Homo sapiens: one gene and its partners. The protein of the gene in region 3 purifies or fractionates together with the protein of the main gene of each other region. This does not show direct contact. Each region holds a gene or a part of one and is shown on either strand. Other genes may lie near its edges.

Region 1 (4,613 bases), on a different chromosome or scaffold from region 3:
AAAAATTAGCCGGGCTTGCTAGTCCCAAACTCCTGACCTCAGGTGACCCACCCGTCTCGGCCTCCCAAAGTGCTGGGATTTCTTGGGAGGCTGAGACAGGAGAATTGCTTGAACCTGGGGGGTGAAGGAGGTTGCAGTGAGCTGGGATCGTGCCAGTGCACTCCAGCCTGGGCAACAGAGCGAGACTCTGTCTCAAAATAAATAAATAAATAAATAAATAAATAAATAAATAAAATAATCCTCATCTTCACCTTTATGCTCAGTAGCTTTTCTAAAGATTCTGACTTTCTAATGAGCATTTTATAGCTTTCAATCTGCAGACTTTATTCTTTCCATATAAAGGAAATTTCCTTATATCTCTGAATATGTTTCCTATTCCATTCGTTACTTCCTTTTCTTCAGGACACCAAATATTGTTATGTTGAGCCATCTTTGTCTTCTATATTTATTAGTTTTTCTTTCCCATAATTTCTTTCTTCTTCTTTTTTTTTTTTTGAGACAGGGTCTCACTCTGTTGGCCAGGCTGGAATGCAGTGGCGCAGTCTTGGCTCACTGCAGCCTCAAGCAATCCTCCCATCTCCGCCTCCCAAGTAGCTGGGACTACAGGCGCCTGCCACCACACCCGGCTAATTTTTGTATTTTTTGTAGAGACGGGGTTTTGCCATTTTGCCCAGGCTTCTTCCTTTTTTATTGCCATTTACTTGTGATTTTCTTAAACCAGTAATTGTTTTCATTTGTGTCTTTTTTCTTGCCATTTTGAATTTATTAGTTCTGGAATGATCTTTTCTGGGTATTCTGTTTGTTCCCTAGGGCCGTGGTCTTTCTTTTCATCTCTTTATGTTGCTTAATAACCTGATTGAGGCTGGGTGCCGTGGCTCACACCTGTAATCCCAGCACTTTGGGAGGCCGAGGCGGGTGGATTGCCTGAGCTCAGGAGTTCATGACCACCCTGGGCAACATGGTGAAACCTCGTCTCTACTGAAATACAAAGAATTAGCCAGGCGTGGTGGTGCACGCCTATGGTTCCAGCTACTTGGGAGGCTGAGGCAGGAGAATCACTTGAACCCAGAAGGCGGAGGTTGCAGTGAGCCGAGATCGCCCCACTGCATTCCAGCCTGGGTGACAGAGGGAGACCCTATCTCCAAAAAAACAAAAACAAAACAAAACAGGCCAGGTGAGGTGGCTCACGCCTGTAATCCCAGAACTTTGGGAGGCAGAAGCAGGTGGATCACTTGAGGTCAGGAGTTCCAGACCAGCCTGGGCAACATGGTGAAACCGTGTCTCTACTAAAATATAAAATTTAGCCAGGTATGGTGGTGCGTGCCTGTAATCCCAGCTACTCAGAAGGCTCAGGTGGGAGAATCGCTTGAACCCAGGAGGTGGAGGTTGCAGTGAGTTGAGATCATCCCACTGCACTCCAGCCTGAGCGACAGAGCGAGATTCCCTCTCAAAAAACCAAACCAAATCAAACAAAATCATAACCTGGCCAGGTGCGGTGGCTCACGCCTGTAATCCCAGCACTTTGGGAGGCCGAGGTAGGTGGATCACCTGAGGTCAGGAGTTCGAGACCAGCCTGACCAAGATGGTGAAATCCCGTCTCTACTAAAAATGCAAAAAAAAAAAAAAATTAGCCGAGCGTGATGGCGCATGCCTATAATCCCAACTACTTGGGAGGCTGAAGCATGAGAATTGCTTGAATCTGGGAGGTGGAGGTTGCAGTGAGCCTAGATCTTGCCATTGCACTCCACCCTGGGCAGAAGAGCGAAACTCTGTCTCCAAAAAAAAAGTTAAAAAATTTGATAACCTGATTGAGTACTTATTTCATTGAGTTTATAAGCTTACATTGTTCTAGTATTGTGAATTAATTGTGAGGAATAACTCTTCGTTCCTTGATTTGTATTACTTCCTAGGTTGATTTTTTTCTTTCTTTTCTTTTCTTTTTTTTTTTGGACTGAGTTTCGGTCTTGTTGCACAAGCTGGAGTGCAATGGCGCAATCTTGGCTCACCTTAACCTCCACCTCCCAGGTTCAAGCGATTCTCCTGCTCAGCCTCCCAAGTAGCTGGGATTACAGGCGTGCACCACCACGCCCTGCTAATGTATTTTTAGTAGAGATGGGATTTCTCCATGTTGTTCAGGCTGGTCTCAAACTCCTCACCTCAAGTGATCCACCCGCCTCAGCCTCCCAAAGTGGGATTACAGGTGTGGGCCACCGTGCCCAGCCAAATTTTTTCTCTTACACAGCTCCTTCCTTCCTTCTTTCCTTCCTTCTTCCTTCCTTCCACTGGAAGTTTCTTTCTTTTCTTCAATATTTTTTGAAAAATTGTTTTGTGGACCAGGTGTGGTGGCTCACGTCCGTAATCCCAGCACTTTGGGAGGCCGAGGCAGATGGATCACCTGAGGTCAGGAGTTCGAGAACAACCTGACCAACATGGAGAAACCCCATCTCTACTAAAAATACAAAAGTAGCCAAGTGTGGTGGTTCATGCCTGTAATCCCAGCTACTCGGGAGTCTGAGGCAGGAAGATTGCTTGAACCCAGGAGGCAGAGTTTGTGGTGACCTGAGATCACGCCATTGCACTTCAGCCTGGGCAACAAGAGTGAAACTCCATCTCAAAAAAAAGAAAAAAAGAAAAATTGTTTTGTGGAGATGGTGGTCTTGTCATGCTGCCTAGGCTGGTCTTGAACTTCTGGCCTTAAGAGATCCTCCCGCCTCAGCCTCCAAAATTGCTGGGATTACAGGCGTGAGCCATGGCACCCAGCAGAAGCTTTGTTCTTCTTTGTTACTCTTTTGTTTTTGCTATTGCATCTTTGTTTATTGCCATTTGGCTGCATTTCATTTTGTTGTGCCCATACATCATAATTGCTCTGATATAATGTGGGGGATTTTTAATTGCTCTGATATGATGTGGGGGATTTTTAATTGCTCTGATATGATGTGGGGGATTTTTAATTGCTCTGATATGGTGTGGGTTTTTTTTTTAAGTTCCCCTCCCCACCATATCTGAGACTATTTTATTTTCCCCTCAGAACCGTGATTTAAGGGCTGAGTATTATTCTAGACACATTTCTGTATAATTTGGGATTGGTTAGAGAAAGGAGGAAGCTCAGCTGAGTTGTGTGCAGTGTTTTTTAAAAATAACTTGGACTCTGTCTTTACACACTCTGAATCAGGTTCATGCCCCACATGGGAGATTGCCTGTAGTCTTCAGATTGTCCCGTTTACAGTGTAATCTTGGAACCTGCACGTTCATCAGAGAGAGCTGGCTCTTTCAGCTTCGCTTATTTCACTTCTTTTGTTTTTTTAAAACTCTTTCCACTATTCCTTGGTCAAAAAAGTAGAAAGATTCAAAAATGCCCATTCCATTTTTTTCTCTTCAGACTTGGTGTTAGTGAGAATTTTCAGGATTTTGCTGCTTTAGCAACGTAGTTTCTGGAGTAAACAGCTAAATGGTGCTGGATCACCTCGTTTTGCTCTGGAATCTTCATTTTTTTTCTTGTCTGTCTTACTGAACAGCTTACAGTTTCTTGGAGATCCCATGCTCTCCTGCTGTGCACATGCCCCTCGTTCTCGGACGTGTGGGGAGATGGGGCTGACCTGGTCCCCTCTTACTCAGCCCTCAAGACTCAGTTTATTGGCCGGCCACATCTTCCAAGAAGTCTTTTCCAGTGATTTCTTGCCACTGCCCAGACAAACAGAGGAACTGCCCCCACTGGCTCTGTGTTCCTGATGTACATCATACATGCCACTCCTTGAATTATAAGCATACTCAATTTATAATTTATTTTTCTATTTTCTTTTTTTTTTTTTTTTTCGAGATGGAGTTTTGCTCTTGTTACCCAGGCTAGTGTGCAATGGTGCGATCTCAGCTCACTGCAACCTCCGCCTCCCAGGTTCAAGCAATTCTCCTGCCTCAGCCTCCCGAGTAGCTGGGGTTACAGGGATCTGCCACCATGCCTGGCTAATTTTTATATTTTTTAGTAGAGACGGGGCTTAACCATGTTGGCCAGGCTTGTCTCAAACTCCTGACCTCAGGTGATCCACTGGCCTCACCTTCTGAGAGTGCTGGGATTACAGGCGTGAGCCACCGTGCCCGGCCTATTTTTCTATTTTCCTTTGAGTTCTTTATTACTGTGAGTTCTTTAAGGCAAGAAAAACGTCTTATTTATTTCTCTATCTTGAAGGTTCAGCTCACTAGCTGACTTATAGTAGGGGAAAAAGGAAGGAAGCTAAGGTTTATTGAAGGACTAGTATTTAACAGCACTGTTTAGATGCTTTAGATATTACTATATCTGACCGGGCGCGGTGGCTCACGCCTGTAATCCCAGCACTTTGGGAGGCCAAGGTGAGTGGATCACCTGAGGTCAGGAGTTCGAGACCAGCCTGGGCAACATGGTGAAACACCTTTTCTACTAAAAATACAAAAATTAGCCAGGTGTGGTGATGCATACCTGTAGTCCCAGCTACTGAGGAGGCTGAGGTAGGAGAATCACTTGAACCCTGGAGGCAGAGGTTGCCGGTGAGCTGAGATCGTGCCACTGTACTCCAGCCTGGGCAACAGAGTGAGAATCCATCTCAAAAACAAAACAAAAAAAAGATACTACTATATCTTAC
Region 2 (3,378 bases), on a different chromosome or scaffold from region 3:
TCCCAATAAACTCTCCAGGGTGGGATTACGTTGTCTTTACTGATAATGTTCTTAACTAAAAATTCTTAGTTATAAAATCACAAATTTCGGCCGGGCACGGTGGCGGAGGTGGGTGGATGACCTGAGGTCAGGAGTTGGAGATCAGCCTGATCAACAAGGTGAAACCCCGTCTCTACCAAAAATGCAAAAATTAGCCAGGCGTGGTGGCAGGCGCCTGTAGTCCCAGCTACTCAGGAGGCTGAGACAGGAGAATGGCTTGAGCCTGGGAGGCGGAGGTTGCAGTGAGCCAACAGCAGGCCACTGCACTCCAGCCTGGGCGATGGAGCAAGACTCCATCTCAAAAAAAAAAAAAAAAAAATCACAAATTTCATAGTGAAACTCAAGTTAGAGTACCTGAAGTTTATATACATAAAATAGACATACCTTTGCTATGAAAGCCTGATTTACTCTTTTTTTTTTTTTTTTTTTTTTTTTTCTTGAGACAGAGTCTAGCTCTGTCGCCCAGGCTGGAGTGCAGTGGAGCGATCTCGGTTCACTGCAAGCTCCGCCTCCTGGGTTCACACCATTCTCCTGCCCCAGCCTTCCGAATAGCTGGGACTACAGGCGCCCGCCACCAGGCCCAGCTAATTTTTTGTATGTTTAGTAGAGACGGGGTTTCACCGTGTTAGCCAGGATGGTCTCGATCTCCTGACCTCGTGATCTGCCCGCCTCGGCCTCCCAAAGTGCTAGGATTACAGGCGTGAGCCACCGCGCCCGGCTGAAAGCCTGATTTACTCTTAACTGGATATAACCAGAAAGAGTTCTGCCCACAATGATATATCTGCATTGAATCTAAAACACAGACTTCATCATACATTCTCACCTAAATTTCTCTGATGACCCAGAGTAAGGCAAAAGGTTTAGCATATGAGAGTGAAAGGATTTGAATCTCACTTTCTGTCAAACTTTAGAGCTCTGTTAACCATGGTTAGTATCAACTATGATTTTAGGCAACTTTGCTTATAGTAAAAATAACTCGTTAATTGTTACGTATCTGGATTGGGATGCACTATAAATAAATGGAGTCTTCAAGCTTTAGGCTTTCCTGAGTGTAGTGACTCTTGAAATTGACACATCCCTTGTGGATACCTGGAAGCTGTGTTTATGGAATTGTTAAGAGATATTGGTTCCTTGATGCCTGTGGAGGATCTTATCTCCTTGCACCCAAATTGTACTAGTGGACTGCTACAAGGACTTCCACTGCTAATGAGGACTGCTTGATGCTGTGCTGGCAGGCTGTTGTTTCTGTTTAATATCCTTCTGAGTAAGCGGGTACCAAGTATGGCCATGGCAGTCTTGTGAGTTTGAATGTTTAATGTAAAGTGACTTCTGTTGGTCATAGCCACAAATAATTTCAGATGTACTAACTTGATAAACATATTCCAGATGTTTGGTTAAACCTAAAAAGACCTCTCTGGTGGATGTAGCAGTACATCATTTCATATGTATTAATTTCATAACTTTTTTTTTTTTTGAGAGGGAGTCTTACTCTAGGGTGGAGTGCAGTGGCACAATCTCGGCTCACTGCAACCTCCGCCTCCTGGGTTCAAGCGATTCTCCTGCCTCAGCCTCCCAAGTAGCTGGGACTCCAGGCGTGAACCACCATGCCCGGCTAATTATTTTTTGTATTTTTAGTAGTGACGGGGTTTCACCATGTTGGCCAGGCTGGTCTCGAACTCCTGACCTCAAGTGATCTGCCCACCTCAGCCTCCCAAAGTGTTGGGATTACAGGTGTGAGCCACAGCGCCCAGCCTAATTTCATAAGTATTGATAAATTTTCATCTTACACTGAATTTACATTCAGACTTAACTTTCTTCTTACACTAAATTAATGAATTAACATAAATCATAAAGATTCTATATTTAATTATAAAAACATAAAATTATCACATCAATTTAATTCTTATAAGTTTATACATACTGCATAATGACTTTGAAAACAGTATAACTCAAAATAATAGAAAACAAAATTAATTGAATGAAGTACTACTGAATTTCAGGTATTTCTGTGACAACACAAATTTAAAATTTAATAAAATATTACCTTTTCTTAGCAAAAAGTTTCTTAAGTCAGATTATCCTTTCATGTTTTAAATGAAGCTTCTTCTAAAGAAGTCCTTTTATTCACAGTTGCAAATTTCTTTTTAACACATACAATGTATACTACATGCTGGAATCAAACACCTGAAGGAGCTGGAATCTTATGAATACAGCCAGGGCAACAGTGTAGAGAATCATGAACAAAAACATCACAGTCCACACAGAAAACATTTTGGCACACAGCACAAACATAAACCTGTAGTGAAAAGAAGAAAAGTGATAAACTAGTTTCCAAAAGTTAATTACAGCACAGCTAGATGACATTCAAGGTGTGCTTTGCTCTTTTATATCTCTACCAATTTTTTCCCACTACCTACTTTATTACTTCCAATGTACTCTATATTCTCAAATCTAAGGCAATTAATTTTTTCCCCAAAACTATCCCTTAGAAATGAGGGAATGGTTTTGTTTTTGAGTCTTTAAAGTCTATTCTATTACAGTTCGCTCTCAATTATTTCATTCTAAGGTTTAGGAAAGACATATGAGCTTCAAACCAGCGCTACTTTTGAATGCTTAGCAAGACCACCTGATTGATTCAATTAAAAAGAGAAGCATAAAAATTTAACATCGATTTAATTATTCTTAGGGAATGACCTCACAATTGCAAACATATTTCCCTTTCAAGTAAACCTTTAAAAAAATATGTCAAATGACACAGATAAGACAAGCAGAAAGGAAAAAACTACATTTGTTCTTTCAGCATTACATATATGAGTACTTGCTCCTTGGGATAAAATTTCCAGGGCAGCTTCATACACAGATTCAAAAATCACTAAATCTCAGAAGTATTTGGCTTTGAATAAAAAAAAAAAAAAAGAATGAATAAATAAATTTCAAACAACACAGACAATGACCTATTCTTAAAAACTCAAATGAGGCCGGGTGTAGTGACTCACGCCTGTAATCCCAGCACTTTGGGAGGCCAAGGCGGGTGGATTGCTTGAGCCCAGGAGTTCAGGACCAGCTGGTCAACATGGTGAAACCCAGTCTCTACTAAAAATACAAAAATTGGCTGGGCATGGTGGTGCACGCCTATAATCCCAGCTGCTTGGGAGGCTAGGCATGAGAATCACTTGAACTTGGGAGGCAGAGGTTGCAGTGAGCCAAGATTGCATCACTGCACTACAACCTGGGTGACAGAGCAAGAGTCTGTCTCAGAAAATAAAACCAAAAAACTGTCAAATGATTCAAAAAGTGGTTCCAGTTAAGAGTAAACTACTGATGTCAAAGAGGTATATA
Region 3 (5,955 bases):
ACTATTATTCACTAATATTTTCACTTACGTTCAAAGTTATTTAGCACTTATTGTGAGTCAAAAAGAAAGGCCGAGGGGATGGGAGAAAGAGGAGAGGGTAAAAGGGGAATTCACATATATTGGGGATGGAGTAGGAAACATGTAAGACATTGCAAAGACACTTTATATAGCACAGCTCTGGATATTCATTACAGGTCCAAAAAAGGCATGAAAATTAAACCGAGCTACCTCCAAGGAATAATTAGAAGTGAAAAATTGATAAAGGGGAAATGGCTCAAGTTCTCCTCATTGATTTTCTGTGCACAGAGTCAAACTTGACTGTTGGTTGGAAGTCAGTTTGGCTACTTCTTATTTCTTTTTCAGCAGTTGGGTTCTCCCGTCAGTGCGTTTTATGCTAGAATCGTTCTTTGCTCTAATTACAGCTGTCAGCTATTGAATGAGCTTGACATCCTGACTCCAGAAACAAGGAAATTCACACTCCATGCATATGCAGTTGGTTCCTTCATTAAAGCTGATTGACATATCAGACATGGTGCACTGTCACTGATTTTTGTAAGAAAAACAAACGGCTACACAATCAAGTGGAATCTCCTTGATCAGAAACACCCAGAGAACCCAAGAATCACTCTTCATTCAACTCAGCCAGTATTTCTGTAAAGACCTATTATTTGTATTACTGCAAAATGGTAGCTATAGTCAATCAGGTAAGAGCCAGATCTGTACACACATGCATGCATACACACACAAGCACACAAATGCACACGCACACGCACACACCAGACTCAGACTCCTTCCCCACAGCTATAGCAGTCCTTTCCAAAGCAACTTTGTTGGAGTACCAGGTGTTGAGAGTCAAGCGGGATTCTTTGGCTAGTAATAGTGAACTGGCTGAGATATACAGATTTCTTGGAGGGAAAAAAAGGAGAGAACTACAGTGATCAGAATCACCCACACCTCAACAAAAATTAGAGCAGAACTACAGTTTCTCAGAGTATTTCTGTAGTTAATATAATAAAATGACAGATGTGGAGTTGAAATGGATCATCGAGTCCAAGCCTGCCAATGAGTTCAAAACTGTCCCAGAGCACCCCTAACATGGACCATTCAGAATCCAGTTGACATTCCTAGCACGATGTATGCCTTGTTCAGTGTGAGACTACTTTCTGGAAATGGATGCACAAACAGAATCGGTATTACAGGAAGTTGTTATGGCATGATCCCTATGAAGATGCATTCCCAACTTACAGCTTGTATTTTGTAATCAATATTTGTCCTCCTCTAACCTCAGGAAGTCATAACACGACTCCAGCCATAAAATTTTCCTGCTGTGCTTCGTCGTACAATAGTGGCTCTTTTCCTCCTAGGCTATAAGGATATTATCAATGTCCCTCAAAAGGTCAAGTGACTTCTGATCATTCCTAACTGATCTTTAACGTGTTTCCTCCAACAGTTCCTTAAACACCCAATGGAATGCTCTTCTATGGCAACGTATAGAACCTCCGGAACTACCATTTGCAATTTTTTAGTAACTCAGAACTGTTGATTTTTAAAATGGCAAAAATACAGATCCTAATGGATACTGACAACTAACAGAAATACTGACAAGTAGCAACTCTTCAATGGAGTTGAGAACAGGAAGAGGGTGCTATAACTAGGTGAGAACATAAAATGTGCAACTGTGCTTACTCTACTGATCTTAGAGTAGACAGATAGAAAGTAATTTTTTTAAGTACATAAGGTTGTACTATTTGATGCTCTGATATATTTTTCTTCAATATAAAAACTACTGGGAGGCGAGCGAACAGTATCTGCCCTGAACAGGGCAGTACTAATGGACGGTCACAGGCAGCTAAGACTATCACCAAACCCCTAGAGCAGCCCAACCCCGAAGTCAGATGGTCCTGTCCCCTCCTTACTTGCTCCAGGGCAAGTATCACACGTGGACATTACTGCTTCCGGTACTGTTTCGTGCATTTTGTTTGGTGCATTTTGTCCGTCTCCCTGGCACCTGGTGGGTGGTGAATCAGCAGTTTTTGAACGAATAAGTGGTTATCACATTAATTCGTGCCTCAATGAATGAATGAATGGACAAACACAGGCCGGGAGCCTGACCCACTTCCCTCTTCCCTCCCGGGACCCACTGCTCCAGGATTGGGCGAACCTCAGGTGAGCGCCTGCTCCCCTCTTCCGCGAACCTTCGCCTACGGCGGCCGGGAGGCATCAGGAGCGCGGTCAGGGCGAAAAAGCCGACTCGCGAGCGCGCAGGCGCAGCCCTGACGCTTCCGTGGGGCCACTTCCTTTTTTGTCTCCTAGCAACGGCGGGTAGCGTTGTTGACATCCCGGGAGGCTGTGCCGCCGGCCTGAGCCCAGAGTTTCGCGGCCTCCGCGATGGTAAATCTGGGGTCTCCGTCCACGCCCCGCCGTTCCAAGCACGCCGACCGTCAAGGACCTTCGCACCCAGCTTCTGGGGCCCACCCAGGCACGGGCGGTCCAGGGGCCGCGGCGGAGGCTGGTGGCTCCAGGATCTTCCTGGAGGGGCGAGAGGGAGACCTTGGAAAGGGGCAAGAAGATGTCTAGATGACTGGAAGCTGTTTTGGGAATTGATTTCGCGGGGATGGTACATAAGGAGGGGTGATGTTGAGAAAGGGAAGAGAGAGATTCAGAGGATGAAGAATGCTCAGGGGAGTGAGAAATCCGGGGAGCCAGGAAAGTTTCCAAAGAGGGGGCGGGAGGCCGAGATGGAGAGGAAAAAAAATCAGACCCTTAGAGAGAAGGAAGAGGTGGGACAGGGAAAGCAAGGGAATGGAAGGGTGAGAAGGGAAGATACTGAGAAAGAAGAAAGGGAAATAAAGAAAAAGGAAAGAAGTGATGGGAGACCCGCCCCCCTCCCCCCCAGAAAAAGAGGTAAGAAAAAAAAAAGTAGAGACTGTGGAAAGCAAAGGGCGTTAAGAGAAGAATGAAACGGGGATTGGAGATGGGGATTAAGAAATTATACTAGGAGCACTTACAAATCATGAGAAGAGAAACAACTGGGTGGAGAAATGGAAAGGCCAGGGAAAGAAAAGAAAGGAGTTTGGGAGATAAGTAAAGGGAGAAAGATAAATAAGGACACAGTGGCTGTAAGAAGCTGTGGACATCGTCTTAAAGATTGCCCAAAATGCAGTGAATTATTGATCCCCTGTTCAACGCTTACGGTTTAGTGTAGTGTTTCTCAAAGTCAGATGCAAACATTCGTTGCTACATAAGATGGCCGAGAAATGCTAAATAAGAGTGAATCACATCGTGAGAAAGTTATTCCTCTTCCATTTTGTTCAACCTTCAGACTACATACAGGAGAAAATTTCTGTTGCTATTAGGTCCTTAATACCACTGTCATTTGGAAATTTCCATTTTTTCATCCGAAGAGCAGGCCTCAGGCTCAGAGCTTTCATTGCAGTAGAATTTAATGATAGGCTCTCTCTTCATTTTGTTCATTTTGTTTGTTTTACAGTTATTTCTATTTATGAGGAATAACGTCAGGTTTCCATTTGTGGTAGTGACATACGATTTCCTCTTAAAATGCATTTATTTAAGCTTTTAGCAGTGAGATAATTTAAAGAACACCTAGATAAATAGTATACATGGCATTCATAATGGCAAGAATCATGAATCTAGTACACAAATGCCTAAAGTCAAGAAAACCTTGGCTCTGATGCTGAAATAGAGAAAATAAGTGCTCCTGCCCATACCAAGTACAAAGGAAAACTATCTTGAAGTAACAAAATGTTCACCTGTGCAATACTGAGGAAAAAAGAATATAGCAAACCCTCATCAAGAGAATTTGCAGAATTCAAAATATCCAGTGATTGCTCAGTCATGAAAAATTTGCAGGTTTGGAAAAGATCGTTCTTGTCTTTGAGTTTTCTACAGGGGAAGAAAACATACAATACACTCTACACATAAGATTCCGAATGAGTTTAAAACACAATAATAGATTCCAGAATAATCACTCATAGTTGAACATTCAGCTTGCACTGAGACGCAAGCTATAGTTATCAAGAAAATCCTAGAATCCTGGAATACTTTGTTTTTATAGACTATCCTTTAAATTTAATCATCCGAACTGATTAGGTCACATTAATGAAAATAAGATTTCTCAATAAGGACTACTTTTAGACAGAGGGAGGCCATGATATAGCTCTATAAATATTTAAAGCACTGTAATGTAGAAAAGGAATTTTCATTTGAATACAGCAGGGTCAATGAATGAAAGATAATCTGGGACAAATTTCCATGCAATGTAAAGAATACTTTTCTAGTAAATGGAAACAGATAAAAATGGAGTGAACTCCTGTGAGGCAGTAAGCTCTCTGTCTCTACAAGGGTTCAAGCCAAGAGATTCATCAGGATTGTATCCAGGAGGTCTTACGTAGGTATTTATGTGGGACTTGACAATTTCTAAGCTGTCTTTTAAAAATCTGAGATTATCACACCTGGCACCTTAGGTTAAGGAGATAGGAGAGTAGGTATCTTGCTAAACATTATTCTCCTTAGGGTTGAAGTTACCACAGGGCCCTTTTGGTTAATTATCTTCCTGGTCTCTTTCAGGCAGAGGTGGAGGAAACCTTAAAGAGGATCCAGAGTCATAAAGGGGTTATTGGAACTATGGTTGTAAATGCAGAAGGTAAATATATCACAGGCTGTCTTCTTGACACACAGAAGCCAACCAGGAACCTGTTTGCCGTGTTAGTCCTTAAGACAAACATCTTCGAATTTGACATCAAAAATATATTTATATATTTTAGCTCTGGCATTCACTTACCAAACATCTATTGAGTATCTGTTATATGCCAAACACTCTGCTAAGATCTGGGGGCATAAATATGAATAAGACATGTCTAAAAATCTCTATATACTCCTAAGAAGCACTATACATTGTTTACTTTTTAAAGCTTTGGTAATTCTCTTCCAACATTTCAGAAGTGCCAATAAAACTATCATATAGAAGATAGGGAGAATATCATTGTTGGTGGGTTGTTTGCGTTTCAACATTATGAACCATACAGAATTTCAGTGTTTATTTTAAATGGAACTTGTTCCTTGAACATATTTTATTTAAAAATCTTTGAGAATTAACGATATCATTTATAATATAGTCTTTGTGGATATAGCATAAGAAGGCCCTACATATTTCCAACTATGAAATCTGTAGACTTACCAGAAACTTGCTCTTGCTGCACGATCCTTGTTAAGAATCCACATCACATTTACTTTGGCACATTGCTCCACGCTCAGCTATGGTGGCAACCTCTTAAGAGTTCATGCTAGTTTCATTGCTAATTCAGACATTTGTAAGGGCAAGGAGTGCCAGAAATTCCAGAGCATTAGTTAAAATAAGAGTAGCTACTTTACATAATTTGTGGTGCAACCATGGAATTGGCCTATTACCAACTCAGTGCCTTGGAAAAATCCATCAGTAAATATTTATTAAGCAACTACCAACTGAAAGTCTGCTTAAATTCTGAACTACAACTCCTTACCACTAAGAATGGACAATAACCTATTTTACTGGGGGTTTTCATTGTTAAATGAGACAATAATTGTTGAGTGCTTGGCATAATACCCAATACTTGATAGTAATTAAATAGTTATGAGAATGTGAGGATTTTTAATTCATTTATACAGTTAAAACATTTGTTTTATAACCAGCAACTCAAGGCCAAATGAGTGAGAGAGATAATAGAACATAATAAATTTTCGAGCTTGAATAATCAGGGGGAAGAGAGGATTTAAGATCTGCCTTCCAGGTAAGTCACAAACTATGCGTAATATTTCCAGGAAGCATTCCAGCCCTAGTACGTGGATCTGGTTGCATTGATTTTATTTCCAGGTATTTGCATACACTCTGCCACAGCTCCGAAGATGAGCCGTCCATGTGATTTCATAGAGATGGTGTGTTAGTTTCCTTTGGCTACA

What was found. The genes of interacting proteins can lie anywhere in the genome.
Region 1: the proteins of DYNLRB2 (region 3) and DYNLT2B purify together in Homo sapiens (affinity purification with mass spectrometry; one large-scale study listed by BioGRID and IntAct). This does not show direct contact.
Region 2: the proteins of DYNLRB2 (region 3) and GTF2H2C purify together in Homo sapiens (affinity purification with mass spectrometry; one large-scale study listed by BioGRID and IntAct). This does not show direct contact.

What each region holds. Positions count from the first base shown.
Region 1 is NC_000003.12:196,307,283-196,311,895, reverse strand, and holds part of DYNLT2B (dynein light chain Tctex-type protein 2B), read left to right. Parts: intron 1-4,613. UniProt on the Homo sapiens protein: Acts as one of several non-catalytic accessory components of the cytoplasmic dynein 2 complex (dynein-2 complex), a motor protein complex that drives the movement of cargos along microtubules within cilia and flagella in concert with the intraflagellar transport (IFT) system.
Region 2 is NC_000005.10:69,591,036-69,594,413, reverse strand, and holds part of GTF2H2C (general transcription factor IIH subunit 2-like protein), read right to left. Parts: intron 2,336-3,378; coding exon 2,216-2,335; coding exon of another isoform or gene 2,203-2,215; 3' UTR 1-2,202. UniProt on the Homo sapiens protein: Component of the core-TFIIH basal transcription factor involved in nucleotide excision repair (NER) of DNA and, when complexed to CAK, in RNA transcription by RNA polymerase II.
Region 3 is NC_000016.10:80,538,689-80,544,643, forward strand, and holds the start of DYNLRB2 (dynein light chain roadblock-type 2), read left to right. Parts: upstream 1-2,304; 5' UTR 2,305-2,388; coding exon 2,389-2,391; exon of another isoform or gene 2,392-2,614; coding exon of another isoform or gene 2,615-2,617; intron 2,618-4,587; coding exon 4,588-4,663; intron 4,664-5,955. UniProt on the Homo sapiens protein: Acts as one of several non-catalytic accessory components of the cytoplasmic dynein 1 complex that are thought to be involved in linking dynein to cargos and to adapter proteins that regulate dynein function.